3 separate regions of the Homo sapiens genome follow, and all the other regions are linked to region 1. The links come from fine-mapping of genetic effects on gene expression. A gene starts in region 1. Each other region holds a variant in brackets. All regions are shown on one strand. Distances are between the middles of the regions. Region 1 holds the start of VWA5A (von Willebrand factor A domain containing 5A). Region 2 has its middle 19 kb from the start of OR10D3. Region 3 overlaps VWA5A (von Willebrand factor A domain containing 5A).

Evidence for each region.
Region 2: its variant is fine-mapped to the expression of VWA5A in blood mononuclear cells (TOPMed, PIP 0.98).
Region 3: its variant is fine-mapped to the expression of VWA5A in whole blood (TOPMed, PIP 0.92).

What each region holds. Positions count from the first base shown.
Region 1 is chr11:124,110,334-124,121,649 of GRCh38, reverse strand. VWA5A (von Willebrand factor A domain containing 5A) reads right to left here and starts at 6,200. Exons shown (of 19, transcript NM_001130142.2): 1 at 6,168-6,200; 2 at 4,970-5,084; 3 at 4,096-4,153; 4 at 3,775-3,977; 5 at 3,239-3,461; 6 at 2,942-3,117; 7 at 2,561-2,675. The coding sequence starts at 4,138.
Region 2 is chr11:124,158,330-124,169,645 of GRCh38, reverse strand. It overlaps the pseudogene OR10D1P. Among named protein-coding and RNA genes, the nearest start is that of OR10D3, 19 kb to the left of the region's middle. The variant A/C (reference allele first, on the strand shown) is at 4,944.
Region 3 is chr11:124,140,644-124,151,959 of GRCh38, reverse strand. It overlaps VWA5A (von Willebrand factor A domain containing 5A), which reads right to left. Exons shown (of 19, transcript NM_001130142.2): 16 at 10,219-10,362; 17 at 9,388-9,518; 18 at 6,597-6,723; 19 at 4,239-6,094. The coding sequence ends at 6,015. Among named protein-coding and RNA genes, the nearest start is that of VWA5A, 31 kb to the right of the region's middle. The variant T/A (reference allele first, on the strand shown) is at 5,927.

The DNA of each region.
Region 1 (11,316 bases):
ATGTCTTCCTCTGAAAAGTCAAGGTAGTAACACCTACGTCAAGATTATTTTAAGCCGGGGTATCCAATCTTTTGGCTTCCCAGGGTCATATAAGAAGAAGAATTGTCTTGGGCCACACATAAAATACATTAACACTAACAATAGCTGATGAGCTAAAAAAAAAATCACAAAATAATTTCATAATGTTTTAAGAAAGTTTACAAATTTGTGTTGGTCTGCATTCAAAGCTGTCCTGGGCCACATGCAGCCCACAGACCATGAGTTGAACAAGCTTGATTGTAAGAGTTAAGTAATATAATGTACTTAAGGAACTCAGTTTAGGGCTCAACTCAGATTAAACCCATAATAACCAATATTATAAAATTATTTGTAAATTTTATTTTTATACAATTTTTAAATTAAATTATAAATTTAATTTTAGAAAAACATGTTCTTAATATCGTAAGTACATCTGTTCTAAGTCTGTAAAACAAATAACATACTGTGTTTTTGTCATATATCTGTAGGTTTCATTTGGCAGAACTCTGAATGGTTTCAGTGAGACAAGCTGCCGCTTAAAGCTGTCATTCGCTTCCTTGTGTGGATGAGAACAGCAAGTCATCTTGACTAAATATACGACCTGGGAAGCAAGACTTGAGCAGTCCTGCTGGAAGGGATTCACAAGACTGTAAAGACTGTCCCTGATGTCCCCCCTTGGCCTTCAGACCTGGTCATGGGGACTAGATGAGAAAATCTGCATAGGGGCCAGGGGAACTTCTTAGAAAAACAGGGACTGAGATCTCAATCCTTACCTTTTGAGATCCAACATTATGGAACTTTCTCTGGTGAAAACAGTCCTTTGAAATAATCTTAACTGACACGTAGGTCACTGTTATGGGAATATTTCATGGACACCCAAGGAAATAGTCACCATAAGGAAAGGAAAAAGCAGATAACTAACGTACAAAGACAGAGCATGGAGCTTCGTGGAAGAGGAGATGGTTACAGCAAATCTGGTGGAAGCTGGGAGCCCCTTGAATGACCTTAGCATGGAGAGCTTGCCCTGAGGAAGAGTGGTTGAACAAGTGAGGGAAAACTAAAAAGTTCAATTTGTGAGCTCAAGTATGAAGCTACTTTGGAAGCAAACATTAACAATGAGAGAGTAGGGTACTCTGTAGAAAAACAACTACAGGGAATTTTCTTGACAACAGCTATAATTGTAAAAACAAGAGCCTAAGCCAAGCCGTCCCACTTTGAATATGATTGTCACCAAGGACATGTCCATTCCACCATGTGTAAATGCTTCAGAAGTGGCAATAGCACTCCAGTCCTGTGTCACCGAAACTCAGAAGCATGGCAGCCCAGGAAGGCCCCAAGAACACAGCAAACTGACATGGGTTACACCAATTTAAATTCCAAGAAAGAGTGCATGTACATTAAGGAAAATTTCAAAAGTAATAAACATTAAAAGAAACTAAGAAACTAAAGTTATTAAGAAGCTAAACTTAGTCTTAGAAATTAAGAAGCTAGGGCAAAACAAAAAAGTTTTGGAGATGAAGGGTGGTGATGGTTGTACAAGGTGAATGTCCTGAAGACCACAGAACTGTACACTTAAAAACAGTTAAAATGGTCAATTTTGTTACATATATTATATCTCGAAAAGAGAAAAAAACTTCAGTTGAGACTGCATGTAGCTGTGATGAATCAATCAATAGAAATTATGTATTAGATAAAAAAGAAATTAAGAACTTTCTTAATTAAGAATTAAACTTAGTCAATCTAATCACAATGACTACTTGCATTCTTCCTGTGTTTTAAAATGTTTTTCCTAAAGCACAGAGTATTTTATAGTGGTAATCTGTCTATAACTTACTTTTCTTTTACGTAACATTCTTTGGAGGTCATTTGTCCAATTACTTCAATCTGTCAATATACACTATTTTAGTAGCTGCATATTAACTCATGAAGTATACCTAGCATAGCAAATTTAGCCAATAAGAGACATTTTGATTGCTTACTAATACTCGATATTATTAAAATGGTGGGGGACATCTCAGTGCATATTTTTACTTATATATGGATTTACTTCCTTAGGCAAGATTTCTAAAAGTGAAATTACCAAAGTTAACATTGATTTAACACATATGGCCAAATTTATCCTCGAAAGGTTAGTTCACTTTTTAGCACACTCACAACCTTAAGAAAACCTTTTAAAGCATGAGGCATCAGATTTGGAAATCGTTGATAATTTGAAAGGTGAAAATGTCACATGATTATTTGGATGTCTGTCAAGACTGATCATTGCCACATGTTTATAAACTGGCCATGTTTTCTCTTGTAAATTATCTGTTCCTGGCTTTTGCCCAATTATCTACTGATCTACTTAAATTTGCCTACAAGACATATCACATGACAGTCATTAAACCTAACCATTTTTGCATGACATAGTGTAAACTATTTCAGTGTTTCACATGTATTAACCACCCCTGGAGGGAAGGAAAGAAAAGAGAGTAATTCGACAGTAATTCCAAGACAGGGAGTTGCCCCTTAGGGGATGACTACAAAGGAAGAAAGAAAATACCTGGCTTCATGTTAGGCATCCCCATCTCCAAAACCACGCTGGGGGTATGCACCTCATTGTAGTAAATCAGGAGTTCCACGTCCCGATCAAACTTGTGTCCAGCAGCCAGGGAAACCTGAGTGGAGGACAGGTAAAGGAGCCACATTAGAATCATAACTTCTTGCTTCTTGGGGCTGAGGTTAGGGCGCAGTCCTCCTCCATAAGACAGCATGACTAGGAACAGAGGTGAGGCTGGAGAGAAGGCTCTGGAGATTAAATGACGATATGCAAGGAGCATGTGGGACCCCCTCTGGGTTACCACTTGGGAAGAACTGGTTGGGGACCAAGTCAAGACTCAAGCAACAGAGGTACTGACAATAGCAGTATTCTCTCATTAACTACCTGAGCAGAAGTCTTGTCCTCTCCTAGGTACTCGGTAGGACTCAAGGGGCAGTTGGATTGGACCTTCTCAATGCCATGCTGGGAATCTATGGTGGCGACCATGCTGAGTGTGTAGGGCAGGTCCTCCACAGGGACTATAGGAGTCTTCACATTAAGGCAACTGTCCTTAGACGACCCTATAAAAGATGACCTTAGTTCTGTTTTCCTTGCCAACACTTTTTATGACACTCTCAACCTTAAGAAAATTTCCCCATTTATGTCACCCACCACTAGAATTCAAAGGGGAGAGGTACTCACCAGAGAACTGGTATCTAGGATTCAGGACAGCTGGGAGCACAAAGCGCAGAGCCCCATCTGCTTCCAGAGGCAGCTCCTGCACATACTTCAGGGTGACTGCCGCCTTCGACCCAGGTTGGAGGTTACCCACATTGCAAGAGAAGACATCCCTGGAGCTGCTGTCCCCCTCCAATAAGAAGGCCTGGTGGCCCTGGGAGATGGCTTTCTCATAGTTGGTGCGGGCCTGAGAAGCACAGGGCGAGGGATGGGAAAGAAAGGGAACATCCAAGGTGACATGGCTGAAAAAGAGACGAGCAGTGCAGAGCGACTGTGTGATTGGTCTTGTCTAATCACAGCTATACTCTGAATGCCTCTGATTGATTTCTTTCCCCAAATGATTTTAGAAAAATGGCAGTTAGAAAAGAGTGGAAGAAAGAGCTTTCAACATCAGCATGTTTTGTGAAGGTACATTTAGTAGAGATCATAAAGAGTATGCATTAAGGAAATAAGAAGGGAGGAGGTAATGTAATAAGAAGGGAGGAGGTAATCTCTACTACCTTCATCTTGTCTTGTAATTCTGCTACAATTTTCTTCCCATCCACCAAGGCCTCAAAGCTGTAAACAGCAGAGTCTTCATCCATGGGGAACACAAAGAAGGCCTCCAAAGGAACTTTCTCCTCATTCTCGTAGTTCAAAGTTGCAGACACACCAGCCACAAACTCGTAAATGTTCACGCTCACAGAGATACTCTTCAGCGGCACTGGAGATAGACCAGAGTTCAAGTTCATCAAGCTTCAATAGATTGCCTCCTTGTAGATCAAGCCTTGTGATAGGTGCCAAAGATTCAATGGCAAGTAAGAGTCACAAATTAGGCTTACCTGGCTCCCGGTGGAGGGTGAGTAGGCCACAGAAGTGCACCATGGTGATGCAAGATTTCTGCAGAAAAGACATATCACAAACAGAGGACATGTTGGAAGTTATCTGTTCAAACACCAGTACTTTATGTGCCTTTCTCTGGCATAAGAATACATTCAAAGGGTTAATGTTGGAGTTAGGAAGTTGGAACCTTTAAAAAAAAGGAGACAAAGATTTCAGTCATAAGGGTCCTTTTAAATGGCAGTCCCAGGTGGGGAAGGTGTAAGATTCACTGGTATCTACTAAACAGGAAATCTCTGAAACACCCTGAGGCTGGTTCAAATACCAATTCCACTTTCTCAAAAGTGTATTTAATTCACCACTCCTTGGGCATATGGAGTAGGTGTCACTAATCCCTCTGAGCCTCAGTATTTTCTTTCCAAAATGAGTAGTATAATATCCACACATCGTATGTGAATTAATACATGTGAAGTCCCTACAATAGCACATGGGCCATAGGAGGCATTTAATCAATGATGACAGACATCACTATTGTCCCTATTATTGTTGTTACTGTTAATCAATAAACCTCTGCCACCATTCACTTTGGATCATGGCATTCAGAGACGCGCTGCATGTGAGAAGCTGTGTGATTCAAGATGGACTCCTGCCACAGGCCATTTACCTTGTGGCTTTTCTTTTGGGACCCAAAATTAAAAGATACGAGTATATTTGTTTGTATCCATCCAAGATATTCTAATATATTTAAATATTATATAGGCACATAGCCTACATTTGCACCCCCACTAAACAGCACCAATAAATCAGGCTTTTCATTCCATATCTGTTTTTATTTTGAGAAATTGGATAAAAACTGAGTGTGGCAAAATGACTCACAATTCGACAGCAACGCAGAGGACAGTGGCAGGTGTGAGGAGAGGAGAGGATGCTCAGAAAAGGGCTTCTACGCAGACCTCTGACCTGGGCAAGTTCTCTGGTAGAACAGGCTGGGCTGGGGGAGGGAAGAATTTCTAATAACACATTAAGCAGAGAGCCTAAAGCAGGAGACTCACACAGGAGTAAAACAGCTGAAAGAGAAGCTCTCAGGCTGGGCAATACTCACCAAGGTGGCTAGAGTAAAAGAGAGAGAGACGCAAAGGGCACCCCTACAAGGAAATAGCCTTCGCTTCCTGATTCTAAGCTCAGAACAAATCCTCCGTTGAGGAAAACTTGCTATTCTGCACCCTTGCCCCCACTCTTCCCAGTACAAACAAAATTAGTTTGGGTCAGAATTAGTTCTGTCTCTCAGGATGGCACTTCAGAAAGGCAACTTGCAAGGCTTAGGTAGAGACTGGCCACCAAGCTGAAAGCCATGAATCTGAGGCAGCTGGGAGAATACAAGGCTTCCGGCCTAGCCAGGTAGCTGCTTCAGGAATGCAGAGTCCCAGCACCAGCCGCTCAGCAGCTAGGAGGGTGGGAGGGGAGCTGGGTGGCACCACCGGCCACACACACCCCTGCGGCCTGTGGCAGGGGTGAAGTGGAGAACTCGGAACCAGACAAGGAGGAGATTTGGGGTAAGAAGTGGGGCTTGGATAAAATCAGAGATTGATTTAACCTTTCCATTCAGTCCTAGATTTCCAATGTCCACGTATTTACAGAAGAGACTGCGTCGGTCTCTTACATTTCTATAGAGAAGGGCTTAGGGGCTGCAACTGATTGGAGTAGATGAGGCTTACAGCCTCATTTCCTCAGCTTACACTATCCTGAAACTGAGAAAACATCAATTGTCTATATCAAAGAAAGAAAGCGGGAAAAAAAGTAAAGTAAAAGAGAAGGAAAGTAGGAAGAAGGGCCTTGAGATTAGGAGATGGCTAAATCCCTCCTTCAACCTCCAAAAGATTCCCCTAAACTGCCAAACTTGCAGGAACCTTCCTGGGGATCATACATCAGGATGAAATCCTCCACCCATGGGGCGTGCAATTCAAGGAGCCCCTACAAATTTGGGGACTGGGGAAAGGGAGCTAGAATGTGGAGCTCTCAGTCTTCCAGAGCAGGGGTTGGATCCAGGCCCTGCACCGGTAGCTTGGTCCCCTACCTTCCTCTCCTGCAGCCCGGAGCGCTCTGAGTCACAGCGGAGTGAAAACAGCTGCAGTCATAATTTCCGGAAAGAACCGCCCCCTTCTAGGGACCGGTTATAAAGTAGCGACTACAAGACTAAGGGATCAACGGAAAATTATTGAACAAATAATCGAACTTTCGCTTGTTTGTATCAAAGGAAAAGTCTTCGACTTTGGAACGTTTGGTTTTTTTCTTTGCTCTTTGCTAAGGAACAATCAGAGAACAGGCAAAGAGGGCAAGGGAAAATGCTGCAACAGGAACAACAACAATGACATTAAAAACTGCATATTTTTGTAAAAGCTTAATTGCCAAAGGCTTACTGTGTCCTGGGCCCTGTTAATCAAAGCTTTATGGAGATTATATCATTGACACCTTATCTCTAATGTGAGTCATTTTCCCCCAAGTTGCCCCTCCCCTACAGCAGGGGGAAAGATAAGGAGATAGTGCAAGGCACACACATCTGCTCTAATGAGAGAAGCTCTAGCCAGGGAAGCCCAAGTCTTCCTGTCATGGGTCGCTTATGGGATCCTGAAACCAAATGTTTGGGTTAACGATGTAAGTAACTGAGAATGTCTATGCTCATTTACCTGGCTAAAGGACATTAGAAGCGATCAAGGTCCCCATGGCTTCTCTATTTCAAAACAACCTATTAAATCTGAGACTTAAAGTGTCATATTGCTGTCGAGAATCTATAGGATAAAGAATACATGATACATATGGAAAACACAGCTTGATTTTGGTCTCTGTGATGTATTTTTTGTGGATATACTTGTTATATACTGGTTATATACTTGTTTTTGTGAGATATTTGTTATATACAAATAACTCTCCCCAAGTTATTTGTTCTCTCATCTGAAACGGGGATAATGACAAACCTCCACTGATTGTTTTTGTGAGATCTAATGAATCTTAGTGGCTATAAAAGTTTTATATATATATATATATATATATATATACACACACACACACACACACACACACATTTATATACTTTATATATATACACCCACATACACATTTATATACATGGATGTGCATGCATAGATGTATATATGTGTATATATGTACACCCATGCATGTATATACAGTTACATGCATGTAATATATGCATATATAGTAAAGCATAATATAAGCACAAATTCTATTTTATCAGTACTAGGCCCTACAACCATGTTTTTTACATGTACTGAACTAATTATGAGAGGAAATTATCCTTTTCTCTGGAGAGAAATCATGTCTGGTATTGTTCCTTGTGACTGTGCCTTCTTTCCATTGGCCGAAACATCTGAGCAACAAAAGGGAGGAGCTGGAAACGTGGGCAGAGTTCATCATCTGATCCTGCTGGGCTTAGAGCTTAGCACTAAAAGTCTGCCACAGACCAGGCATGCAGCGTGGTTAGAGGGCACTGAATCAGGAAACACACAGAAGTTGCTGGTTGTTGAAAAAACAACTATGTGAAAATTCCCATAACCTAGCACAATATACACAATTAAACCGATATAGATGAGATATCTTCACTTAAAAGTCTGTCTTAGTGTTGCCAGGCATTCCTCAAGGTTGATTCTCACCTTCTTTTTTATACTAACAGGAACCCCAAGTTTCACAATGTCTATGACCATTCAGAATAAAAACATTGCCTAGCCTCCCTTAAAGCTGGTGTGGCCTTGTAACTAAGCTCTGGCCCATAGGGTACAAGAAATAAGTGCAACACCATGTCATGCCCTTTCAAAGAAAAGAGGATGGCTTCCCATTCACTTTACCCTCTTCCTGCTCATTGGTGTGAATGCAGGTAACTGAACCAGCTTGAACCATAAAGACTAGATCATAAAGCCTGGAGCATTTCCCCTAAAAATGGAGAAGCAACAAGACAGAAAGATCCTGAGCCCCTGAGACTCTCATAGAGCAAGCCACTGTATCATCACAGAATTTTACAGGATAAAGTAACAAATTTCTCCATGGTTTATAACAGCTCTTTGGGTCCTTATCTTACCCTAATACATTTGATTATGATTAATTAAAAAGTAGACTTTTAAGGAAACTATCTTCTTCAGAATATGAAAAGCACATTTGCTTATAATGGAAATAGAAATCTGCATATTATGAGAACAATATCCAATTTATTTTAGCGCCCACCACTGTAACACATGTGCCCTGAATTATGCCGGTGTGTGTTGATTATGTTGATCATAGTTTGCTACTTATTTTTCTTCAGTTCTTCTGAGAGCCATTTCCCTTCCTGAAATAAAAAGGCTGTTTGTCATAGAGTGCTTAGCATTGGTTCAGAACAGGCTTTCAATAAGTCGTTTCGGTCATTGTCTCATTTCTGTTATTCTCTTTCTTCAATGTTCTCTATCATCATGGAGTTTTAAGTGTCCAGTTCTGCTTGTTCTCTCTCCTCTGATGTTTCCATAGCAATTCACCTAAAACTTCCTGCCGTTTTTATCATACTTGAGCCCTTTATGTGCTCTTAAAATTGTAAACCTTTAAGAAAGTAAGTTTTTAAAAGTCATGAAGTTATTTGTTTAATGAATAAATACATACAAATCCCAGTGGTTGTATATACGCTTAGGTCTTGTGATTGCAATCCACTATAGATACTGGAGAATAGATTTCAAAAGCTCAAATAACAAATGCTCAGACGTGCACAAATCTTATAAGCATTTATTACATATTGGTGATAACAATTATAATTAATAGGTATAATTTTCATATGATCACCGATAACTTGGAAATTAAGTGTTTGAAGATATCACAGACAACCTGGGCTCAGCAGAAACTTATCATGAATGAATGGATAGATAGAGTGAATTTAAAAATATGCATAGTACTATATATTGAGTTCCTATTTGAAACCAGTGCTAAGTGTTTTACATAGTATGTCAAACTACATTAATTACAGACAGGAATAATGTCTGTGATCACAAATCACTTAGTAGTTTGTCAGAAATTTCTTGGATGAGAGTGACCATTGCTTAAAAGTAACAATTTTCATCGATTACAAGCAAATATGCTCCTGACAAACCCAAAGCCTAGACAAATGCCAAAGGGGATAGGCAGGATGCAGCTCAAGTGTCTAAAAATCTATGAGGGCTTGTAAAGAACATATATTGCTCATCCAGAGGTTCGGAAAATTGTAGAGAAAACAAGAAACCAGGTTCTAATTTATCAGGATCTACCTCGGTCTGTCACATAATTAAGTCTATGAGCTTTAGATTCAGTCTGGGGCTTGAGTCCTACCTCTAGTTCTTAATAGTTGTATAATTGTGAGAAAGCAATTTAACTACTCCGAGTCCATGTCATCATTTGTAGAATGAACTGATAATACCTAGTCTATATGTATGTTGTAATCATTAAATGAAATAAGTTTTAAGGCATATGTCACAAGTTGGCATTCTCTAAATGTTAGTTCCACTTTCCTTTTGTTGGGTTGGCCAGCGGAATTTTGAGAATCTGGAAAACTATATGCCACTTAGATTTCCACATAGAAAGGCTACTTTCATGAAAAGGATTCTGAGATTTCTTATACTTTTTCTAAATCTGGCAACATTATTTTAGTTTTGGTTTGGTAGTTTTTTCTGCTCACCATCTTTTGGTTTTAATTACTCATCGTTAAAACAAACAAAACAAAACCACCATTGTTTTTAAAAAACCCTCATCTTAAAATTGGGAAGGAAAAGAGGAAAAGAGCAAGTGGGGGGAAAAGCAAAAGGAAGGATTCTAACAATGAAATTAAAGAGGTGAGAAATCTTTGTTTATCCAATTTCAAGAAATATAAATCTCATGGGTACACAGTATGTCAGAAAGTTTACAAGCATTATCTAAACACTCAAAATCACCCTGTGAAATACTATCATAACTGCATTTTACACAACACAAAGTGAAGGCTCAAAGAGCACCAGGTACCTGCTCAAGGACATATAGCTAATGAGAAACAAACTTGTTCTTCGCACTCAGAACCTTCTGGCTCCAAAGTGAGTATTCTATTCATTATGTTATAATTTCTTCCACAGCCATAAGAGGTATAGGGATGGGTAGAAACTGGAAAAATGACAGATTTGGTAGGCCAAATCCCTGAAGTCTGCACAGAACAAAAGAGACTGATGAGATATCTACCCAAACCAGAAAAATAGGGTGGTCAGGAGGGATCCACAGCTCTTTGATTCCCAGTTCCTTTAAAGGGTATCGTGATTACTGCATCCTGTTTGCTAACTCCTAAACTCTTCCAATATCTGCCATTTAATTGATCCCTGTGCTCAGAGGGCTCCTGCTCCCTGTCTCAGAATAGATCATAGATGAGGCTCCAGGGGACTATGAGACCATTTAAAATTCCACAAAGGTAGGGGATATTTTCACTTTCGCTAACTCTGAGGAAGTCATCCTAGGCCATAGGGCAGCCATCAGATGTATAATATCTTCTGTATGGTTCTGAATGAAAAAGAAAAAGCCGTTTGGGGTCTGCAACTGGAGAACTCAAACCCAACTCCTTGGCACGCTGAGAAATGAGATGTTTGGGATGGAGAGCCCCATACTCTATAGAAGAAACAGAAGACAAAAGAAGGGTTAAAAACATTTGTGTTCCTTAATTGAGCTGGTCGTGATCCTTGTGACTATGTAAGTATTCAGAGCTTCTCCTCAACTTCCTTAATTTTTACTTGTTTTCCTCACTCCAAAGACCTGAGTAGCAAGAATTGTTAGAAGAAATCACCGTGAAGTGCTTCTTTCTCATTCTATATGGCAGCCAGAGTCTTTTCCTCCACTCACCTTCTCATACAGCATTTAGGAATGTATTTCTTGATTCCTTTCCTTTTGTTGTTACTAATGAATTCAGCATCCATCACATTCCAAGCCCCACAGAGTTGCTTAGAATTAAAATTTAGTTGGTTATATTCCTTGACATGGAGAAAATAAATAATCTTTAGCAGACAAATATATATATAACAGACATTCTTCTGGTTCTCTTCCTAATTCTCTGAAGGATATGTACATTTCTTCTTAAATGACTCCCTTTCCTTCTCCTTTTCCTAAAATGTAGTATTTCTCAATGTTTGGCCTCCAGTACTATTTTGTCTTGACTACACCAATCTCTCCTAGTGATATCATTCAGGCTTAAGACATTGACTATCATT
Region 2 (11,316 bases), 48 kb before region 1:
GGCAAATTGAGAACAGGGTCTTTTTCGCTGCTTTTTTTTTTTTCTTACTAAGTCTCTGTTTATATCTACCTATAATTTGTTAGCATAGCTAAAGGCCAAATATACAATGGGTTGACACAGACTGTGTAATTACAATATCTATTACTTTTGTGGGGTCACATGTTCAAAGGTTCAGCATTTCAGTAACTTCATTTGAAGGAAAAGTAATTCTGAGAACTATAATGGGAAACAGAGTCTCATCCAATTTTGCTTCAACCCAACACATTGCATAAGTACAAAATAACATATAAAGTGAGTATTTGAAATTAAAATGAAGGCTTATATAAAAAATTATATTCAAGATTCGATACTGGTTATGGTGGTTGATATTATGTGTCAACTTGACTGGACACTGAATGGCCAAATATTTGGTTAAACATTATTCTGGGTGTGTTTGTGGAGATGTTTTTTATGAGATTGACATTTGAATGAGTAGACTGAGTAAAGCAGATTGCCCTCCCTAACATGGGTGACCCTCATCCAATCAGTTGAAGGCCTGAGTAGAACAAAAACACTAAGAAAGATACAACTTTGGTACTTTGACTGATTGATCTGAAACATGGGACTTCTGCCCTCAGGCTAAAACTTACATCATTGTGTCTCCTGGTGCTCAGGCCTTTGGATTCAGACTGAACTTACACAATCAGCTGTACTGGGCCTCCACTTGCCAACTGCAGGTCTTGGGACTTTTCAGCCTCCATAGTCATGTGAGCCAATTCCTTATCATCTTATTTTATATATTTTTTTTCTATTGGTTCTGTTTGTTTTATGAAGCCTGACTGGCTAACACATTAATTTTGTACTACATGCTAATTTCTGCACTAAGCTCTTTGCATGGATAACATAATTTTATCTTCACAATAACCGTATGAGTTAAGTACTTTTATTGTCCTTGTAAGACATTTGACAAGACTGTACTCAAAGGACCTGTCTAAGGCCACAAAAATGATCAGTGACTTTGTGGAAACTTAAAGTCAGATCTGTCTGACCGCAAAGCCTAGCACATTCTTAAACACTGTCACTAGTATTCTTGAAGAGTTGTTTCCAAAGAAAAAGTTTATAAGTTGAATGCTGATTTTCTTTATTTTTTTATTTTATTTTATCTATTTTAGGTTCAGGGGTACATGTGTAGGTTTGTTATATAGGTACTCTTGCCATGGGGACTTGTTGTACAGATTATTTTGCCACCCAGGTACTAAGCCTAGTACCAGATTGTTGGGGTTCAATCAAGCTGGTGGGAAAAATATTAGAGATAGTTATAGAGATAGACACAAATCTTCTTGGAAGGCTGAGAAGTTTGCATAACTTTGGTAATAGATCTGACTGAAGGCAACCTGGTCCCTTTACCTTTAGCTAAACAAATTAAAGTAGTAACAAAGGAAGGCAGAGCAGTTTACCTAACTACTCTGTGATCTAAGACTAAACTTTGATGTATCCCGGGTGCTTACGTGCTTTCTACTAGGGAAGTCCACAATGTCAATACCCTCTAATGGTGTTGACTCAAGCCTTTGTTAATTAATCTTACTGAATAAATGCGAGTCTCACTAGCTGATCAGGCCGAGTCGCAACTGTTTACAGGACTCAGCAGGGAGTCTGTAAGCAGCTTGGACACACTCAGCTGGACAGGCAAAGCAGAATATCTGTGTGTCAGTGTACTTCATTCATCCGTTGCTGGGTCAGGGGCCTGCAAGGGACAGACCCCGCCACAGCTGGTGCCCCCATATGAGCAGTGCTGCCACATCAGATGGTTACTTTTTCTGATCTTCTCCCTCCTCTGGTCAGCCTCCATCCTCAAAAGGGCCCCAGTGTCTGTTGTTCTCCTCTTTGTGTCCATGAGTTCTTGTCATTTAGCTCCCACTTATAAGTGATGATGTGTGATACTTGGTTTTTTGTTCTTGTGTTAATTTGCTAAAAATAATGGCCTCCAGTTCCACCCATGTTCCTCCACAAGACATGATCTCATTCTTTTTTTATGGCTGCATCACATTACATGGTGTATATGTGCCACATTTTCTTTATCCAATCTGTCACTGATAGGCATTTAGGTTGATTCCATGTCTTTGCTATCATGAATAGTGCTGCAATGAACATTCACAAGCATATGTCTTTACGGTAGAAGGAGCATACCTCAAAATAATAAGAGCCATCTATGACGAACTCACTGCCAACATCATACTGAATGGGCAAAAGCTAGAAGCATTCCCCTTGAAAATCAGCACAAGGCAAGGATGTCCTCTCTCGACATTCCTATTTAACATAGTATTGGAAGCCCTGGCTTGAGCAATCAGGCAAGATAAAGAAATAAAGGGCATCTGACTAGAAAGAGAAGACGTCAAACTATCCCTGTTTGCAGACAACATGATTGTATATCTAGAAAACCTCATAATCTCAGCCCAAAATCTCCTTCAGCTGATAAACAACATCAGCAAAGTTTCAGGATACAAAATCAATGTACAAAAATCATTAGCATTCCTATACATCAACAACGCCCAAGCTGAGAGCCAAATCAGGAACACAACTCCATTTACAACTGCCCCAAAAAGAATAAAATACCTAGGAATATAGCTAACCAGGGAGGGGAAAGAGTTCTAAAACATGAATTACAAAACACTGCTCAAAGAAGTCAGAGATGACACAAACAAAAGGAAAAACATTCCATGCTCATATATAGGAAGAATTAATATCATTAAAATGGCCATATTGCCCAAAGCAATTTACAGATTCAATGCTATTCCTACTAAACTACCAATGACGTCTTCACAGAATTAGAGGAAAACTATTTTAAAATGCATATGGAACCAAAAAAGAGCCTGAATAGCTAAGGCAATCCTTAGCAAAAAGAACACAGCTGGAGGCATCATGTTACCAGACGTGAAACTACATGGGTACAGTAACCAAAACAGCATGGTACTGGTACAGAAAAAGACACATAAACCAATAGAACAGAATAGAGAACCCAGAAATAAAGCCACACACCTAAAACCATCTGATCTTTGACAAAGGTGACAAAAACAAGCAATGGGGAAAGGACTCCGTTTTCAATAAATGATGCTGAGATAACTGGCTACCCATATGCAGAAGATTGAAATTGAATCTCTTCCTTGCACCATATACAAAAATCAACTCAAGATGAATTAAAAATTTAAATGTGAAACCCAAAACTATAAAAACCCTGAAAGACAACCCAGACAATACCATTCTGATCACAGACATGAGCAAAGATTTCATGATAAAGATGTCAAAAGCAATCACAACAAAAGCAAAAACTGACAAATGGGATCTAATTAAACTAAAGAGCTTCTGCACCGCAATATATATATATATATATGTATATATGTGTGTGTGTGTGTGTTTATATATATAGGTATATATATGTGTATATATATATAGGTATATATATGTGTATATATATAGGTATATATATGTGTGTGTGTATATAGGTATATATATGTGTGTGTGTATATAGGTATATATATGTGTATATATAGGTATATGTGTGTGTATATATATATAGGTGTGTGTGTGTGTGTGTGTGTGTGTGTATATATATATATATATATATATATATATATACACACACACACCAACAAAGTAAACAGACAACCTACAGAATGGGAAAGTTTTTTTGCAAACTATTTATCTGACAAAGGTCTAATATCCAACATCTATAAGGAACAAACAAATGTACAAGAAAAAACAAACAACCCCATTAAAAAGTGGACAAAGGACATGAACAGTTTTCAGAAGAAGATATACATGTAATCAACAAGCATACGAAGAACAACTCAATATCAATGATCATTAGAGAAATGCAAATCAAAACCACCATGAGACACCATCTCACACCAGAATGGCTATTATTAAAATGTGAAAAAATAATAGATGCTGGCAAGATTGCTGAGAAAAGGTAATGCTTATACACTGTTGGTGAAAGTATAAATTAGTTAGACCATTGTGGAAAGCAGTGTGATGATTCCTCAAAGAGTTAAAACAGAAGTACCATTTGACCCAGCAATCTCATTACTGGGTGTATACCCAAAGGAATATAAATCATTTTACCATGAACACTGATTTGCTGTTACTGTTTATTTTTATTTTTTTACTTAAAAAAGTTTAAAAAAAAGACGGGAAGGTAACATACTTATCAAATCTTTTTTATATTCAAGATACAATATTAAGTGTTTAAAAAAAAACTAAGTCAATCCTCACCATTAAAGTAGGTTTAAATATTACTATTTTACAAAATTACAATACAACAATTTAAATTAGCTAAGTAACATGTTAAAATCATAAGTTCATACATGTTAAGATGAAATTCAAATCATGTATGTCGGATTCTGTTACCTCTGTCAGCATAAACATTAGTATTCTCAAAGTACAGCATGAGTCTGTTCCTAGAAGACATTTAATAACATCTAATAAATGTATAGACTGAGGTGCTGATCATCAATGAAATGTTTCCACAAACCATTCTTTCATTTATTTATTCAACAAATGAAGGTTTGGACAGTTCTGAACTGTGACTACTCATCTGTCTTATTTTCTTTACCTCTCTGCCTCTAGTTAACTGTTAAAAGTCATGTTGCCAACCTTATTTTGACGTAGTAAGATAATGTTTTATGCCATGATATAAAACTAAAACACAGAAAAAAAAATATGTCTAAGATGGGAAAATTTTAAAGAAAATGACTTGTCAGCTTGGATGTTGAAGGATGAGTAGAAGTTTGTCCAGCAGAGGAATCAGGGAAGGGCATACGAAGAGGGGACATTAAAATGTATTAAGGGCCGGGTGCGGTGGCTCACGCCTGTAATCCCAGCATTTTGGGAGGCCGAGGCGGGCAGATCACGAGGTCAGGAGATCGAGACCATCCTGGCTAACACGGTGAAACCCCATCTCTACTAAA[A/C]ATACAAAAAAGTAGCCAGGCGCGGTGGTGGGCACCTGTAGTCCCAGCTACTCGGGAGGCTGAGGCAGGAGAATGGCGTGAACCCAGGAAGCGGAGGTTGCAGTGAGCTGAGATAGCGCCACTGCAGTCCGGCCTGGGCGAAAGAGCGAGACTCCGTCTCAAAAAAAAAAAAAAAAGAAAGTATTAAGTCACAGAACTGTGAATGAATCTATTTTAAATGTTTTTAGGTCTTCTCTAAAATCTGCACAGAATTAATCATTTCTGCCTTCATTTTGCTTTTCTAAATTTTATATACTTTCATTAAATATTTATCACATATTATTTTAATTATTTCTATATCTGCCTCCCATCCTTAGCTATGAGCTTCATAAGAATAAGACACACAGATCTTTGTAACTCCAGTGTTTAAATATACCACTTCATATTTTTATTCATACATTGATTTGTTCTTTCAATAAACCAGTATCTATTTAATACATATTATGTTAAACACTGAATGGCAAGAAGAAGAGAGATGGGGTGTTGCTGGGGGAACTTATGGCTTTGAGGAAACTAAAGAGATAGGTTTGTTTTGATTATTAATTCTGCAGATAAGGTACTGAATTGTTTTAATTCAACCTATATGCAACAAACAATTATTGAAGATCCAAAAGAAACAGAGTAGTAGTATGTGGTTTGCATTGTGGAAAGATACTACGTTAGGATGTGAATGAATTATGACCATATTTCTTAGGACCTCTGTCCACATCTCCTCAGCCTATTCTAGAAGTTACCTTCAGAGAGTTTCTTTATGTGTTAAGGGATCCTAAATTGTGGTTATTAGAGGCTTGGAAGGGGAAGGGAAAATGTAGGATAAGAAAAGGTTGGTTGATAGATATAAAGTTACAGCTAGATGGGAGGGAGAAGTTCTAGTGTTCTACAGCACAATAGGGTAAATATGGTCAACAATAATTTACGATATGCTTTCAAAAAGCTAGAAGAGAGGATTTTGAAAGTTCACAACACAAAGAAATGATAAATGTTTGAGGTGATGGATATGCTAATTACCCTGATTGGATCATTACACGTTGTGCACACATATTGAAAATCACTCTGTATCCCATAAATGTAAAATTATTGTGTGTCAACTGAAAATAAAAGGGGAGGAAATTGAAATATATATGTAATATTTAAGTGAAAAAAGCCAATTTCAGTTGAATTGTATTAATAAAAGTTCAAAGCTTTGCAAAGAAGGGTTACAAACATAGGTGTTTAGGGACACAGACATAGCAGGTGAAATGCAAATAACATCAAGGGAATAATACACACAAAACTCTAGAGAATGATAACTTCTAGAGAGAAAGAAGGATGTGTGATCAGGCCAAGGTCTACGGAGAACTTCCAAGGCACTAGCATTACTCTTTTTTTTTATACTAGGTAATGGGATGCATGTGTTCATTGTATCATTGTATCACAGTTCCTTATATTTTACATATTTTTCATGAGTATTATTTTCTAAATGTTTAATATTTAATAAAAATATTTTTTAAAAACAGACATCCAACAGGACAATAAAGAATGGCTTTTTGATGGTATCATTATTATAGGTTATTAGCAAAACAGTAATTAAAATAATAATTTTAAACAGAATGTAAAATAAAGGAATGATATATAGTAGGCTCAATTGTTTCTCACCAATGTAGCACTCCAACAATAACAAGTATTATTGCCCCTCTTACCCTAAGTGAACCAATACAACATATAATGTAATAATGCTATTCTCTTAGCTTGACTAGTTATTTTTGCAAAGGTGGAGTCAGTATCCTTGACCAAAAGTAATTGCAAATTTAGTGACCGAAAACATGATTTCTGACTGGTTATTCATTCATTTCAATCAATTTGATTTAGAACAAACCAGCAGGGGACTTGAGAGGGCAGGAAATAAACAGAACAGGTCCCAACACCTGTGAACACTCCTTTGAAAACTCCTCTTCACAATCCTCCCCTGCCATGTCAGCGGCCATCACCTTAGCTTCACTTTTAGTGTCCACATCATAAGTTTTCACTTTGGATGCTCCCATCATAGTTTTGTGCTCTTGGGACTATATGTAAAACAAAACACCTAAATGAAACTCAGAACAGGCATCAGTTTCGTAAAAAAAATTAGAAAAGAGCAAAAAGGAACAGTGACTGGAGAATACAGGAGTGTCTTGCAAAAAAAAAAATTGGGGGAGAACAAAGAAGCCTTTAAAGAAACTAGAATCCACTTGGCATCAGGTCCTGGATGCCCCTCTTAGACCATGCTTGAACCCACTGTCTCAGGAAAGGCTATGCTGGAGCCTGTTCTGCTCAAAACATCCTCTGATCCTCCGCTTCAATATTCTTGTTCTTCTCTGGCCTCCCTGGTCTCGACACTTGATTTTTTTGTCTTGCTTTGCCCCTGTGGGTTAAATATTCTTCTGGATTGTCTACCTGGTTTGAGGTTTTCCCTTTCACAGTTTTTCTCAAGTTCTTCTCACACTACCCCTTAGATTATAGAACACAGAAAAATCTCAGCTCACCCTCACACCCAACTTGGGCCTGCACGCCTCCAGGTTGGGGCTGGCATTCTAGGCTCCTGCTTAGGTGGAAAGAGAACTCAGACACTACCTGGAGACCTAAGAACAGCATCTCTCAGAACGGCTGGGACAAGCAGAGAAGTCAACTTGTTTAAGGAGATAGGGATATAGTTTTTTTATTCAAGACATCAAGTCCAATGAACAAAGAACTGAGCTGGAGAAGAACCCTGAAAACAGAAGGCACACTAAATTTTATTTTTTCCTGCAAAGGCATTTAGTCACAAATGGCAAATAGTTAAGTGATACCTGCCCAAATAATCTCTCACTGCTCTCCCTGCACATATAAAGACTGAGAAGTATGTTGCCTCTCCCTGGAAAATACTCCTCAGCCATTCTTAATACGGAAAAAACAACACAACATTTTCAATCTTCAACACCTTTTCTGTAAGGTCCTTTCTTCAAATGAGGAAAATGCACTCCAGATTTTCTGCTGTATTGTACATCTTGATCATAGCTTAATGATGGGACGTTCTAGTTAGCTGTATGTCTGTTTCTCCAGCAGACTCTGATTTCTGTGCAGCTGGGGTCATATCTTTTTCATTTTGCATTCCTCGCCCTTGCACAGAGTTATTCATCAAACAACTCTGAATGAGTGAAGATTTGAAAAGGAATCAGATCTCATCTTTTATCTTTACAAATTTGTCTGTTTTTACTGACTGTGCAGCTACACCAGTACACTGAGGCATGGGAAGGGATCTTCAGAGTGGACTCAAAGAGGCTTGACAAGGGCTTGCGATTTGGAATAAATTTGAAATAATTTGAGATGTATTTCTAGCTTCCCTTTTAGGCTCTTGTTTACTGGAAAACAAGGGGGAAACAGCACCGAAAGAGGTTTTTAGGAGTTTGCGTAGTGACCAGGCAAACGTTTGTCTCCCTTCCAGGAGCTGTGCAGGCTCACCCACTGGCTGGAGCCATGGATACAGTGTTGCTCATTTGTTCTGGCCGTTTCTTTACTGCTCTCTAATTCTAAGAAGTGCAGGTGGGGAAAAAGCACTAGTCTCTGCTTCTGCCCTCTCCTCTTCCATCATCCTCTTTACAGCCCTGTTAGAGCAAACTTCACAGCAACATATTTCCCCAGTGTGATAGGATTCTCAATGAATTCAGTTATGAAAACAATAGCTCATTTCTCATTATTGGCATATTTCAGTCAAAAAATAAAGAAATGTAAGAGGGGGTCCAAAATCGAACCCTTTTAGTCAACAGAGAAGGCAAAGACACCAAACAATGACATCTTGGACCCAGCATTGCCTCTTCGTTGTACTGAGCAAGACTTTCTTTTATTTTTTTTTCGAGATGGAGTCTCACTCAGTCACTCAGGCTGGAGTGCAGTGGCGTGATCTTGGCTCACTGCAACCACTGTCTCCCGGGTTCAACGGATTCTCCCGTCTCAGCCTCCCGAGTAGCTGGGACTACAGGCACCCGCCATCATGACCAGCTAATTTTTGTATTTTAGTAGAGATGGGGTTTCATCATGTTGGCCAGGCTGGTCTCGAACTCCTGACATCAGGTGATCTACCCACCTTGGCCTCCCAAAGTGCTAGGATTACAGATGTAAGCCACCGTGCCCTGCCCAAAGCCAGCCTTTCTAACGTGGGATCACAGTACAGTTGCCCCTGTTTGGATTCCCCTACCTACCTTCGCATCTCATTCACATGCTGCTTCTTCACACCCAGGGCCTGTTTCCAGGTCTAAGCCTGGCAGGCAGGGTTTGGAAGTGATACAGCACACTAGTATCTCTGCTTTACCCATAAGAGACTGCCTCAAGTCCCAGCCAGATGCCTTTCTCTTTATACAACCTCCTTATGGTTCAGAAATAACAGGATGCTGTTTAAATAAATTGGGATGCACCGCCACCACCACCACCAACAACAACAACAAAAAAACACTTTTTGTTTTTCTTTTCTTTTCTTTTTTTGAGAGAATGATTTTTTAAATTGAGGTAAAATTTACATAACAAAAAATGAACTATTTTAAAGTGAACAGATCAGTGGAATTTTGTACATTCACATTCACGTTGTACATAGCACATTCACAGAGTTGTGCAATCATCACCTCTACCTAGTTCCGAAACATTTTCATCACCCCACAGTCAAACTAAAAAAAAAAAAAAAGGTCAATTTCCTCTGTTTTAATGGATTTACCTGCTCTGGATATTTAACAGGAATGGAATCACACAATATGTGACCTATTGTGTCTGGCTTTTTTTTCCACTGAGGATTAGATTTTCAAGTTCATCCACATTGTAGGAGGCATTCTTCATTCCTTTTTGACTGAATAACATTTTTAACAACTTGTAGATGCATAAAAATGAGGGCTTATCCAATGCAGGCATTTGAGGATATAGTCACTGTAGTCAAGATGAATAAATGTCATGGTGTGAGGGAAATGAAGAGGAGGAGGGGATGTAGGAGGATGAAGAAAATACAGATTGAGAAGCAGAAGCTCCAAGCTGTTCTGCCTACTGAGAAGAGTTTCTCTCAATCTCTCTCTCTCTCTCTCCCTCCCTCTCAAGCAGTATGATTTCCTCAAAAGAGCACAGGCCCCAGAGTCACAAAACCAGCTCTAGAGTCCTCATTCTGCCATTCACAGCTTACATGTCCTTGGACAAGTTACTTTGAGTTTTAGTCTCCACACTGTAAAATGGAAATAATAATACCTGTGCCCTCAATTTCAAAAATATGTGTGACAACTAAATAAAAATGGTTATAAGCTATGAAGTGTGGTTGAAGCGCTAGTTACTTATTTCTCTCTACAACTGCTCAGGAAGGAAGCCCAGCTGATATAAGACCTTCCTTAGTGATAATTTCACCTCCTTATTCCTGAGACTGTAGATTAAGGGGTTCAGCATGGGGGTGACCAGGTTATTCAGAATTTGAACAGTTGCATCCAACCACAGGCTGTGGGTAGGCCTCAGGTAAATGAGGACCACTGGCATGTAAAAAAGCAGGATGGCGGTGAGGTGGGCGCTGCAGGTGGAGAAGGCACGGCGTCGGCCCTCGGCAGAGCAGATCTACAAGATGGAGAAGACGATGCCACTGTAGGAGGTGAGGATGAGAAGGAAACAGCTGAGGGGCATGAGGCCCACACTGATGAACCCCACCATCTCCAGGGCTGAGGTATCTGCACAAGCCAGCTTCAGCATGACTGGGATATCACAGAAATAATAGTCCACCTCATTGGGGACACAGTAAGGCAATTGGAAGGTGAGAGTGGTCAGAAAGGTGGCCTGAATGCAGCCAAAGAATGAGGTCCCCATGGCTAGGATGATACATGCTCTGTGGCTCATGATTATGGTGTAGCGTAGAGGGTGACAAATGGCAACAAAGCGGTCGTAGGCCATCACCGTGTACAGGAAACACTCAGTGCAGCCCAGGAAATGGTAGAAGAAGAGCTGGGATGCACAGCCTGCATAGGAGATGGCTCGGCTGTTCCCTGAAAGATAGCACAGCATCTTAGGGGAACTCACAGAAGGGAAAAATAGGTCAAAAACAGACAGCTTGCACAGGAAGAAGTACATGGGCGTGTGAAGCCGAGCAGAGGAGACAATAGCCAGCAAGATGAGCAGGTTCCCCATAAGGGTGAAGATGTAGAAGGACAAAAACAGGACCAACAGAATAGTCTCCAGACCCTCCGTGTGAGGGATGCCCAGCAGGATGAATTCGGACACCACCGAGAAATTCCTCATGGCTGTGAAAACATCCAACCTTGAAAAGGTACCCAAGACACCAAAGTCTAAACACCAATGTCAAGTTCTCAAGCTTTTTGCTGATGAGTGC
Region 3 (11,316 bases), 30 kb before region 1:
TATAAATACAAGCTATTTTTATGAAAGCCTTAAGATAACCACAAAGAAAAGTCTCAAAACATAAAGAGAAAATAATCAAAGCAAATTGCTACCAAAAAAAAATCAAATACAGGAAGAAAGCAAGAGAAGAACAAGCCAACTACAAAACAAACAGAAATCAATTAAAATGGCAGTGATAAGTCCTCACTTATCAATAGTTATTTTAAATGTAAATGAAATAAATTCTCCAATCAAAAGACAGAGTGATCATTTTTATTTGTCTATTGTACCTCAGTAAAGCAGAAAACATGCTTGTAAGCTTAAGCGTCTTTACCCTAAAAATCCACTGAATGTTAAACTGTTAATTACAGTACCTCAAAAAAGAATTAAAGTGAGTGAATGGATTTCACAGTACATAAACTACACTTCACTAAGCTGTTTTTTTTTTAAAGTGAAATAAAGACTAAAAAAGGCATGGATTCTAAAGTCTATATAGAGCTTGATCGCTGACAAAGTATATATATATACTTTTAAATATATATATATTTAAAAGTAAGCCTGACTATATTTCTATACAATTCCACTTTCAGCTTTATGACTATGCTTATTATTATTTAAGAAGAATTGCCTAACATTATACCCTCATCCCTACCTGAGACTCTGTCTATTTATTGACCCTCACTGCATTACTGAATTCTTCCCCACACCTCACCTCATTTTCATATCTCACCATTAAGGATGTCTGTTTGTTACATCACTTAGTAATAAAAACTGGTTTATGTGCAAAACAAACAAACCCAAACTTTTAACTTTGGATAGACCACAATAGAAAAAAGAATGTTTTCTACCTCTGAAATTCCAAAAAGTACAGTTCTGTAAATGAAGGGTCAGTGAAGTGTGGAGATTTGGTAGATCAGACTACATGGAGGCCAGTTTCAACTATAACATGCAAAGAGTTTGGAAACCATCACTCTCACCATTACCACAAGAAAAAGCTGAACAAACATGATATGGTTTGGATTTGTGTCCCCACCCAAATCTCAGGTCGAATTGTAATCCCAGTGTGGGAGGTAGGCCTGGTGGGAGGTGATTGGATGATGGGGGTGGATTTCCCCATTTGGTGCTGTTCTTGCGACAGAGTTCTCACGAGTCCTGGTTGTTTAAAAGTGGGTAGCACCTCCTTCCTCTTTCTCGTCTTCCTGCTTTGGCCACATGAAGACACCAGCTGCTTTGCCTTCCATCATGATTCTAAGTTTCCCGAGGCCTCCCCAAAAGCTGCTATGCTTCTGGTATAGCCTGCCAAACTGTGAACCAATTAAACCTTTTATTTATAAATTACCCAGTCTCAGGTTTTCTTTTTATAGCAATGCAAGAATGGAATAATACAAAACTCATTTATCTGTACCCTTTAGAAACTGAGAACACAGGTAAATAGTCATTCTGAAATCCTGAGAGACAGGTGACTTCAGAGTCACTGCTGACATTTACAAACCTGGAAGAGAATCTTTGGGATGGAATATAGACAAATAGAAACTTCCTAAACTTAAATGTAAAGATAAAAACAAAAACCAAATAAAAAACAAACACACATTCACATGGCTATATAAAGAATCTCTGGAATGGAAGATAGACCAATAGAAACTTCCTAAACTTAAATGTAAAGATATAAACAAAAACAAAATAAAAAACAAACACATAGGAAAAACAGAGCAGAACATTCAAAACTTACAGGATAATTTCAAACAGTGTAACATGCAATTGAAATACAAGAAAAAACTAAGCAGAAAAATAGTTGAAGTTATAGCAAAAATTTTCCAAAATTAATGAAAAGCACAAAATTACAGATTCAGAATGTTCAAATAACACCAAAAGGATAAATACAAAAGGCCCTACATTTACAAATATAATATTCAAACTGCAGAAAACCAAAGACAAAGAGAAAATCCCAAAAGTCTGCGGGGCAGGAGGGGGAGAACACTTTACCTATAGAGGAAAAAGAATAACAGCATATTTCTTGCCAAAAACTATTCATGCTAAAAGAGATTGAAGTAAAATATTTAAAGTGTTAAAAGACAAGACGACTGGACGCAGTGGCTCATGCCTGTAATCCTAGCACTTTGGGAGGCCAAGGTAGGTGGATCACAAGGTCAGGAGATCGAGATCATTCTGGCTAACACAGTGAAACCCCGTCTCTACTAAAAATAAAAAAAATTAGCCAGGTGTGGTGGCATGTGCCTGTAGTCCCAGCTACTCGGGAGGCTGAGGCAGGAGAATCACTTGAACCCAGGAGGTGGAAGTTGCAGTGAGCCGAGATCACGCCATTGCACTCCAGCCTGGGTGACAGAGCGAGAATCTGTCTCAAAAAAAAATAGACACACACACACACACATACACACACACACACGGAGCTATAAGTTCAGCACAATTATGCTTCAAAAGTGAAGAAGAAATAAGGACTTTCCCAGACAAAAAGAAAAACTAAGGGAATCCATTGCCCACAGATCTGTTCTACAAGAAGTTTTAAGACAAATTCTTCCGGAAGAAGAAAAAGGATACAGGTAAGAAACTCAGATCTATGCAAAGAAAGGAAATGTCAGGAAGAAATAAATAAAAGTGAAATATGTATTTTCATTTTCTTATTAATCGATCTGAAAGATAACTGTTTAAAGTTATGATAGTAACAATTAGGTAGTTAAAATATAGACATAAGTGACATGAATGGCAGCAATGTCATAGTGGATGGGAAGGAATTAGGAATACTCTGTTATAAGGTAACTGCACTACATGTAAAGTGATATAGTGTAACTTGAAGGTGGGCTTAAATTAGTGATAAATGCATATTGCAAACCCCAGAGCTAAAACTAAAAAAATTCTTAAGAAATATGATGGATATATTGAGTGGAGATAAAATGAAATCACACAAAATGCCTGGTTAAAGTGAGAAAAGGCAAAAATGAAAAAATAAAAGAAAAAAATGCAATAAATAGTAAACAGTTGACAAACATGGTAGATATTAACCTAATTTTATCAATAATTACTCTAAATATAGATGATATGGGTCGATAATTTAAAAGTAGTGATTGCCAGAGTGGATTAAAAGCAAACAAAAACAAATAAATAAGACCCAACCACATGTTGTTTCCAAAAATCCACTTTAAATAAAAAGACTCATATAGGCTAAAAGTGAAGGGATGGAGAAAGATACACCCTGCCAAAACCAATCAGCAGAAAGCTGCAGTAGTTACGTAAATTTCAGACAAAGCCAACTTCAGAACAACAACAACAAAAATCAGGAATAAAGTTGAGCATTAAATAATGATAAAAGAGTCAATTTTCCAAGGATGTATGATAATTTTAAATGTATATGCACTTAGGAGAATATCAAAATATATGAGGTAAAAACTGATAAAATACACAGTTCACTGCATGGGTTTTTTTTTTTGGTTTTCTCCTGGTCAATCAGATACTCCAGAAAGCAGATGGACTGTTTTTAAGGAAGGAATTGCTGTGAGTTGGGAGAGGAAGAGCAGATGCTCAGTGACCCTGAGTGGGACTGTGTTAGAGTTGGGGAAGACGGAGGATGGATTTCATTAGTAAGTCTGTGTAGAACAGAGAACCCTCCAGGGGAGCTCCTGGCCTGTTTGAGTGGAAGAATCTTGAGGGAATGGTATCTGCCACTTTTCCTGTGGCCAAGTCTGCTGCTGTGGGGGAAACAAGCACTAGATAAAGGCAACTAATGGGAGATGAGAACAGCTTCTCTCCTGGGCTCCTTGCCTGGACCACCAGTTTCTGAAATTACAGATGGTTCTTTATACTTTCCCAAAACATAAAGCATCAGACTTGAAATGGGGTTTCAACAAATGTGCCAAAATGCCATTTGCTGATTATGAAGACTGACACTTGTTTAGATTCGAGGAATTTACAGTTGGCACAACATTTCACTGTGCAGGAGCCCAAATGGAAAAATAAAACCACGCCACTTTAAAACTGTAGTTGTCTTATTTTAAAGAGGTCAAAAGACAGGTTGATAATTTTTTTTTTGTTTCTTTTAGTTCGTTTAGTTTTTGTTTTAGAACGCCCCGCACTAAGTCCACAAGCCCCAGTCTGGAAGTTGAAGGGTGAGAAAAAAGGAGGTAAACGATAAGCGCTCCGCATAATAAATGTAAAGTCACAGCATTGTGTGCACAGAGGTTAACTATACAAGTTTCACGGTCCTTAAGAAACTATTTTCTGAAATTACATAGGTAGGGCCTATCTAGATGGCAGGCTTGGATATAAGCCTATTTCATGAAAATATTAAGCCTTTACTTTTCAAACTTCAATGTGCATGCATGATACCTGGGAGCCTTGTTAAATAAAGTAGTTCCTGGTATCGATTAAAATTCTGCATTTCTAAAAAGCTGCATTTCTAACAACCCTGTTCCGCAGATCACATTCAGCATAAACAAACTTGGAAGAAAGACTGAGAGATTAGAGTCCACTATGCAAGTCACACAAGTCTTCCTAATACCAGGTAACTCAACAACTTAAAGAAACTCAGGCCTAGTCCACCCACTTTCTGAGTGAAAAGTCACCGATGTTCCTCTAGGAATTCTGAGTGGAACTCGAAAGTGTTAATAAAGTTCTAGTTTAATCCCTTAGTTTTACAGATGAGGATATTAAGTGCCTGAGGGTGAAATCATTTGCCCATCATCACATAACTATTTAAGGGTATGGTCAGGATTCTACAGTGGTATTCTTATTAGTATCCTTTACTTGCTTCATATAAAAGAAGTCAGCCTACAACAGAAGATAGAGGGTCAGGATACCATGGGAACAGTGGAGGCATCAGAAAAGCTGGAACAGAAAACAAGGGACAATAAAACCAATGTAAGTTCAATAAATGAATCTATGGAGGAGTAGACCTCTTGCTAAGCTTTTTTTCCCTACTAAGTTTTATTTCACTAACTTCAGGTCAAATTTCCACAACTGTGTTCCGGTCAATTTACTATCCTAGTTTGGCTTCCCAAAGTGGCAGTACCAAAATATTGTGGGGTAGGGAGACGAGACCACTTTAAGAACCACTGCATTTACTCATCAAAGGGTAGAAATAGTCATTTTAATATTGATACAAGTTATTTTAAGGGACAGCATATCAAATAGGGTCATTTCCACCAGGATAGGGTATATGAGACACAAGGGTCAGGAACGATTACGGGGAGCTCCTTTCTTCCTAATGCGGTAAGTGCTCCAGGTTCAGGTCCCAGGCAAAGCTCCCATTAAGCCCACCCTTCCCTTTACTGCACTAGATCAGGGCCTGACTTAGAGGACACATAGGTTCAGGGTAGGACTAAGGATTGCATTATAGACTTCTTAAGGTGTTTCATGATTAAAGAGGAACATCTCTCTCCAACAGTTATAGTTCAACCCAAGTCTTTCAGGCAGTGGAAGAAAAGACATGTAGGTTGTACAGGCTAGCAAAGCCCAAGAAGAATGAATCAGGAAGGTCCCCAACAGTGTCACCTCTCACAGTGGACCCCTGCAGTCTCTGTCTTTGTGATCTTGACATTACATTGATCCAGATGTTGGCTTTCAACTTCCCTCTAACTCCTCCTACGCAAGCTTACCAGTATGGCCCTGATAAGTATATAAGATAGAAAGTGAACAGACAAAGATAATGCAGAAAATTCTCTAATTCAAGCATTCTCTAACATAAATGCTGCAATCTTTAGTCTGTAGTTCATGTCACCTGTTTTTCATGTTGTTTCCCTGGAAACCCTGGGAGGAACATTACTGCCTATGAATGTTTTGAACTCCCTCAAGAAAGGGAATAGGTTCTGGGACCACTGTCACTTTTCTGAGGGCATATGTTGGGAAAAGAAAGATCATATCCAAAGTGAACCTGGAGCAGAGAAGCGAAGTGGAGTAAGCATCCTTTACTTTTATGGCAAAAAATAAAGAGTTATAA[T/A]ACACAAGAACACATCATCACAGCAAAAGTGATACTAGAGGAAATGACAGTAGCAAATTAAAGGCACTTCTTTTTCTGGATGGTATCTTCAAAAGGCAAAGATAGCAGGATCCACAGATGACTTCAGGAAAGTAATAGCAGCTTTCACAACCGAAGGCATGGTGGAGCCTGTGGTGAGGAAAAACAAGAAGCAGGGATGAAGGATTGCAATTAGAGGCTCCTCCAAACCTCCCAGATCATCTACCCTGAGTTGTGCTTTTATCTGTCCTCAATATCCCTGCTTTTTCTTTTCTTGCTACCCAGATTCTCCTTGAATCTTCTCTGGCCCCAGATACACTCAGCTGCAGTGAGATAACAAACAGCCAGGAGAACACGCACCAAGTCTAGTCTTCTACTCAGCTTGGTACTGAGACAGTAAGGAGAATCAATGCCACTTGTCCTTCTCACAGTTCACACTCCCCATTTGTGTCCCTCTCCCTCCCTACTCACCCACCTACCTTGTCCCCAATTTAATATTTCACCCTTGTCCTCCCAAGAAAAGAACTAGCAGAAAGATTAGTAAAGATCTGAAGCAGGATGGTGGAGGCAGGTGACAATGGGACTCTCTTGTGGTCACCTTCCGCCAGGCCAGGGAAGGGGAAGGAGACAGGCCTTAGGATTGTGCTCCTACCTGCATGGGCACGCATCCAGGCCACGGCCTTCCTTTCCAGAAGCTCCCATTCACACTTCAAGTCCTTACCATTGCTGTGCAGCCAGATCACGGCCAGGATGGTGGCCCAGCCTGAGGAATCCACAAGCTGCACAGTAGATAGAGAGCTCCAGTTGGCACAGGAAGTCCCTCAAAAGGATGCAAAAAGCTTCACTCCCTCCTCACTTAGCATCCTTCTAAATGTCACTAGATGGAGTTACCTGGTCTCTCTTTACCTCCAGATACTACTTGCAAGGCATAATGCCAGGCCTTAAACCTCAGGGCAGCAATCCATTGAGTCTCGAAATAGAAAATCCTAAGTTTTAAATCCAGTGTAACCACCAGGACGGTTCTGGAAACCCCTAAGACAAGGCCAGCTCTAGTAAGAGAAACACAGGCAAAACTGCTTTATAGTTTATAAAGAACCTTCATAAGTTTTTTTTAATTGTAACCCTTATACCCCCCCACCAAAGAAATCATGAAAAAATATCAATAAACATTTTTAAGAAAGAAAACTGATTTCATATAGAAGTATTAACAAAATGATTTGCTCAAACTTAGCTGTCTAGCAAACGACAGAAGTGAGACTAAAGGCCAAATATTCTGACTCTAGTTATATTCTCTTATTTCTCAATAGAAAATCTCAGCCATGCAGCAGAAAATTGTCTCCCATGAGTTTTCGCTCACTGCTCCCAGCTTCAGCTTTCAGAGTCAGGAGATCAAGGGAAATTCCTATTTTATATCATGACTTTTAAAACTTGGAAATGGCTATCATGTCCTCTCTGAGTGGTCTTATTTCAGATTAGAATTCTCAATTCCTCCATTTCTTCCTTAAGAGGACTGCTTATGTCAAAGCAGTAAGCATCCCCACGCTTGTTCTCCTAGTCTAAAAACAAACAGCGTAATGATTTTAAAAATATATCTCCTTAAATGGTCTATCTGGAGGTAAATGTACTTATAGAATTCTACAATCACAGCCCATTTCAGGTAACCCTGTTGTCCTCCATTTCTTAGTTAAATATTCTGATTCACACAGTTGTAGTCATCTAAAACCTCTGATTTTCATGTGCAAATGCTCTCTTCTCTACCTGTAGAGTTGGGAATTTGGAACCCAAAACAGTACTTAGCTTTTATTCCTACTATGTTGTTTTTCTTTTTTTTTAATGAAAAGTTGCAACTCATTGTTCAGAGGTTTTTTGGGATCCTGATTCTTTTGACTGATAGTTTATCTCCCAGTTTTGTCATCTACAAATAGGAAAGTCTTGGTCTTTATCTTCATCTAAATCTTCATTGAAACTGTGGACCTCCAGAGAATTCAGAGCCTGGTGGGTCTAAAAATCTGTTTCATGTTTGAAATCAATTCATCATTCAGCGCCATAGGTTTTCAACTAATTTGTACTTGGTCCATGTTCTCATCATTAAAAAAAAAATCAAATTCCTTACTGAAATTCAGATATACCAGGTCTGTTGGTTCACTTGATTCATTGGCCTGGTTACCATTCCAAAGAAGGAAATGTCAGTCTGAAGTTTTTTGTTCCCAGTGCATCTAATAATCCCTGTATCCTCTTCCAAGTGTGTATGAATTATCATCTTAATTACTTTTCTAGAACAGCATTTTCCAATAAAAATATAATGCTAGAAACATATGTAATTTTAAATTTTCTGGTAGCCAAATTTTAAAAAGTAAAAGAGGTATAATTATTTTACTGATATATTTTATTTAACCCAATCTATTAAAAAGTCATCATTTTAACATGCAATCAATATAAAAATAATTATTGATGAAATGTTTTATTCCTTTTTATAAAAGTCTTTGCAATTAGTATGTATTTCCCACCATAGCACACCTCTATTGAATTAAAAATTCAGTTCCTCATTTGTATTAGCCACGTTTCAAAGGCACAATAGCCACATGTGACTAGTGGATACTGTATTGGACAGTGGAATTGCAGAATATCTGAAATTTATTTGATCTCCTTCCACATTTTGAAAGTTTAGAATGATATTTGTCCTTCAGGCTTTTTGCACCTGTCTCATGCCTAACAACTTCTCAATGAGCGTTAGAAGATTTTGTAAGTTACCTTGAAATTCTGGAATGCAATTTATCCTTATCAGCATATTTAAATACATCTGAAACAACTAGGTGGTTCCTAGTAACAACACTTTACCTATCCTGACTTCAGTTAACTTTTGCCAATGTCTGGACCACTTTCATCGGTATGAAGAGGAGCAATAATGAGGTTATTATTGGGGGTTCTCAAGACAGATACTCTTAGAACTGAATCTGGCTCTGCCACTGATGGGCTAGGTAAACTCAGACACATTTTTAGACCTCCCTGAACTTCAGTTTCTTCATCTATAAACAGCAACACAAATGGGATCTACCTTATTAAATTAATGTGTGAAATAAATAAGCTCATGAATATTAACTGCTTAGCACAGTGCTTGGCACAGAGTAATTGCTCACTAAGTATTAGTTACATAACCAAGATGATTGGCAGGGAATACGATTAAAGTGGAAGAGGATTTTTGCTTTCCCTTTGTCATCCACCAGCAAAAAAAACCCCATCAATTCCTACTAGCTTCCCCATTAATCCCTTGATCTTTCTGCTCTAACATGACTGGAAAAACCTTCAGCCTCTATTTATTACAAATTAATTTAGTCTATGACCCCCTATATTTTCCTTCCTCAGGTAGGTCCTGAATCACCTCAATTCTCAATGATGACCTCTCTCTCAAAAACATACATACTCCTTTTTCCATTGAATCTTACCTCGGCAGGCTGTGCAGCCATTATTTCTTCCAAACTCATACCTAGGATCTTGGCTAGATCTTCATTCAGATCCCAGGAACCATTTGCATTTTGGTGGTAAATCAGCTGCACAAGGTGATTCTCTCCAAAGCCTTTGAGGAGAAAGAAAAGAGAAGAATGAGAAATTGTGGAGCTATCGGCACCTCAGCACACTTGAATTTAGGGCTGCTAAATTCAGAGACAGGCCATAGCAAGAATGCAATAGAAAGAAAGTCATCAGACAACATCCAGAAGATCGGTCTTCAAACCCTACTTGTGAAAGGATGACCAGTGGAACAGGGGCTCACAGATGGTGGCAGCAGGGCTCTGCTGGGGGGCGAGGGCAGCCCGCAGGCAAGCTGTGTGAGCTGAGATGGCCAAGGGGGTTTGTTCGACTAGGGGTCACCCTAGACTCCACTGGGATAGCAGGTTTCAAGGTCCTATATGATATCCTAATGAACCTAGCTAGGCTGACCCTGGGAAACATAGGGGCGGAACAAATCTGACCTTCTGCCCAGTGCTTTTCAAACAGATGAACTCCTGGGTAAAGAAAGCCACAGGCAGCAGAACATTGAAGGCTAGTTTGTCAGTCCCTATAGATTGCAGGGGTGAACCGAGGCCTGCCTCATCTGCATGGTAAGTTTCCAGGCTGGTTCTGTGGGTGGAGGAATGAATCTTTTCCAATGCATGGGGGGTCCCTTCGAGAAACATGCATCTCTTGTCATAGCTGTAACTACAAGCTTTTAGCTTGCCTAGTCCTGTATATGTGACAGAAAAACATTGTTGAGAAAATGTTCCTATAAAGGTACTCACCTGGACTGTGCTGGTCCTTGTGACTTATCAACCCACAGAGACTGTAATCGTCCATCTGGAATGTCTTGGCCTTATAACACATAAGTTCCCCTCTGGGCTGAGATGCAGAAGGAGGACGGTCAGAGTGTAAGGCCTTTCGAAAACCTGAAAAAATCCAAACATTAAGACAGTGGCACTCCCTGCTCTCTGCAGTGGGCAAAGGACTGTGACAATTCAAGATACATACCCCCCCATCCACACTGGCTTCAGTCACCACCCTTACTGTGCTATTTTTCTCTCATATGCCCACCTCCTGCGCAAACCCTCACCCTCTGAGCTCTCCTTCTACTGTGTCCTCTGGAACCCCTGGCACATGCTAAACAATTTTTCCTGCATCTTTAGTTTTACTACAGGAGGCTTCTGCCAGCTAAGTCTCAACTTAAAACTGAATTTATCCTCCCAAAAAACTATTCTCCCTCCATCACTCTCAAATGGTTGTTGCTCAATGTACCACACTTCAAGTAGGGAGGTAGGGTTGGCAACCTCTTCAGTCCCTGATGCTGCATCCAGATCATTAAATGCGGTTTACCTTCCACATGTCGTCACTATTGTCTACTTCCAATCTCTTTGTTATTTCCGATCATTCATTAAAGTATCTGAAAACTAGACCATAGACTTCCACTCCATTAAAAGGCCTACCATCATCTTGAGATTTCATCACCCATGTAGATAGCCTATAAAATACCCTAATGCAAAGCTTCTTCAACTTCATCAAATCCAATGACTTCCACTTCATTCTACTTCTGCCACTTCCTCCCAAGCCATGAAGACCTTGTTATTATGCAGAATTGTTCCACTCATAGAAAATAAATTGAAGCTGGGCACAGAGATTCATGCCTGTAATCCTAACACTTCAGGAGGCTGAGGTGGGAAGATCACTTGAGCCTACAAACTTGCTACCAGCCTGGACAAAGTAGCAAGACCCCATCTTTATAAAAAGTTTTAAAAATTATCTGGGCACGGTGACATGTGCCTAGAGTCCCAGGCAGAAGGATCACGCAAGGCCAGAAGTTTGAGACCAGCCTAGGCAATGTAGTGAGACCTCATTTCTAAATAATA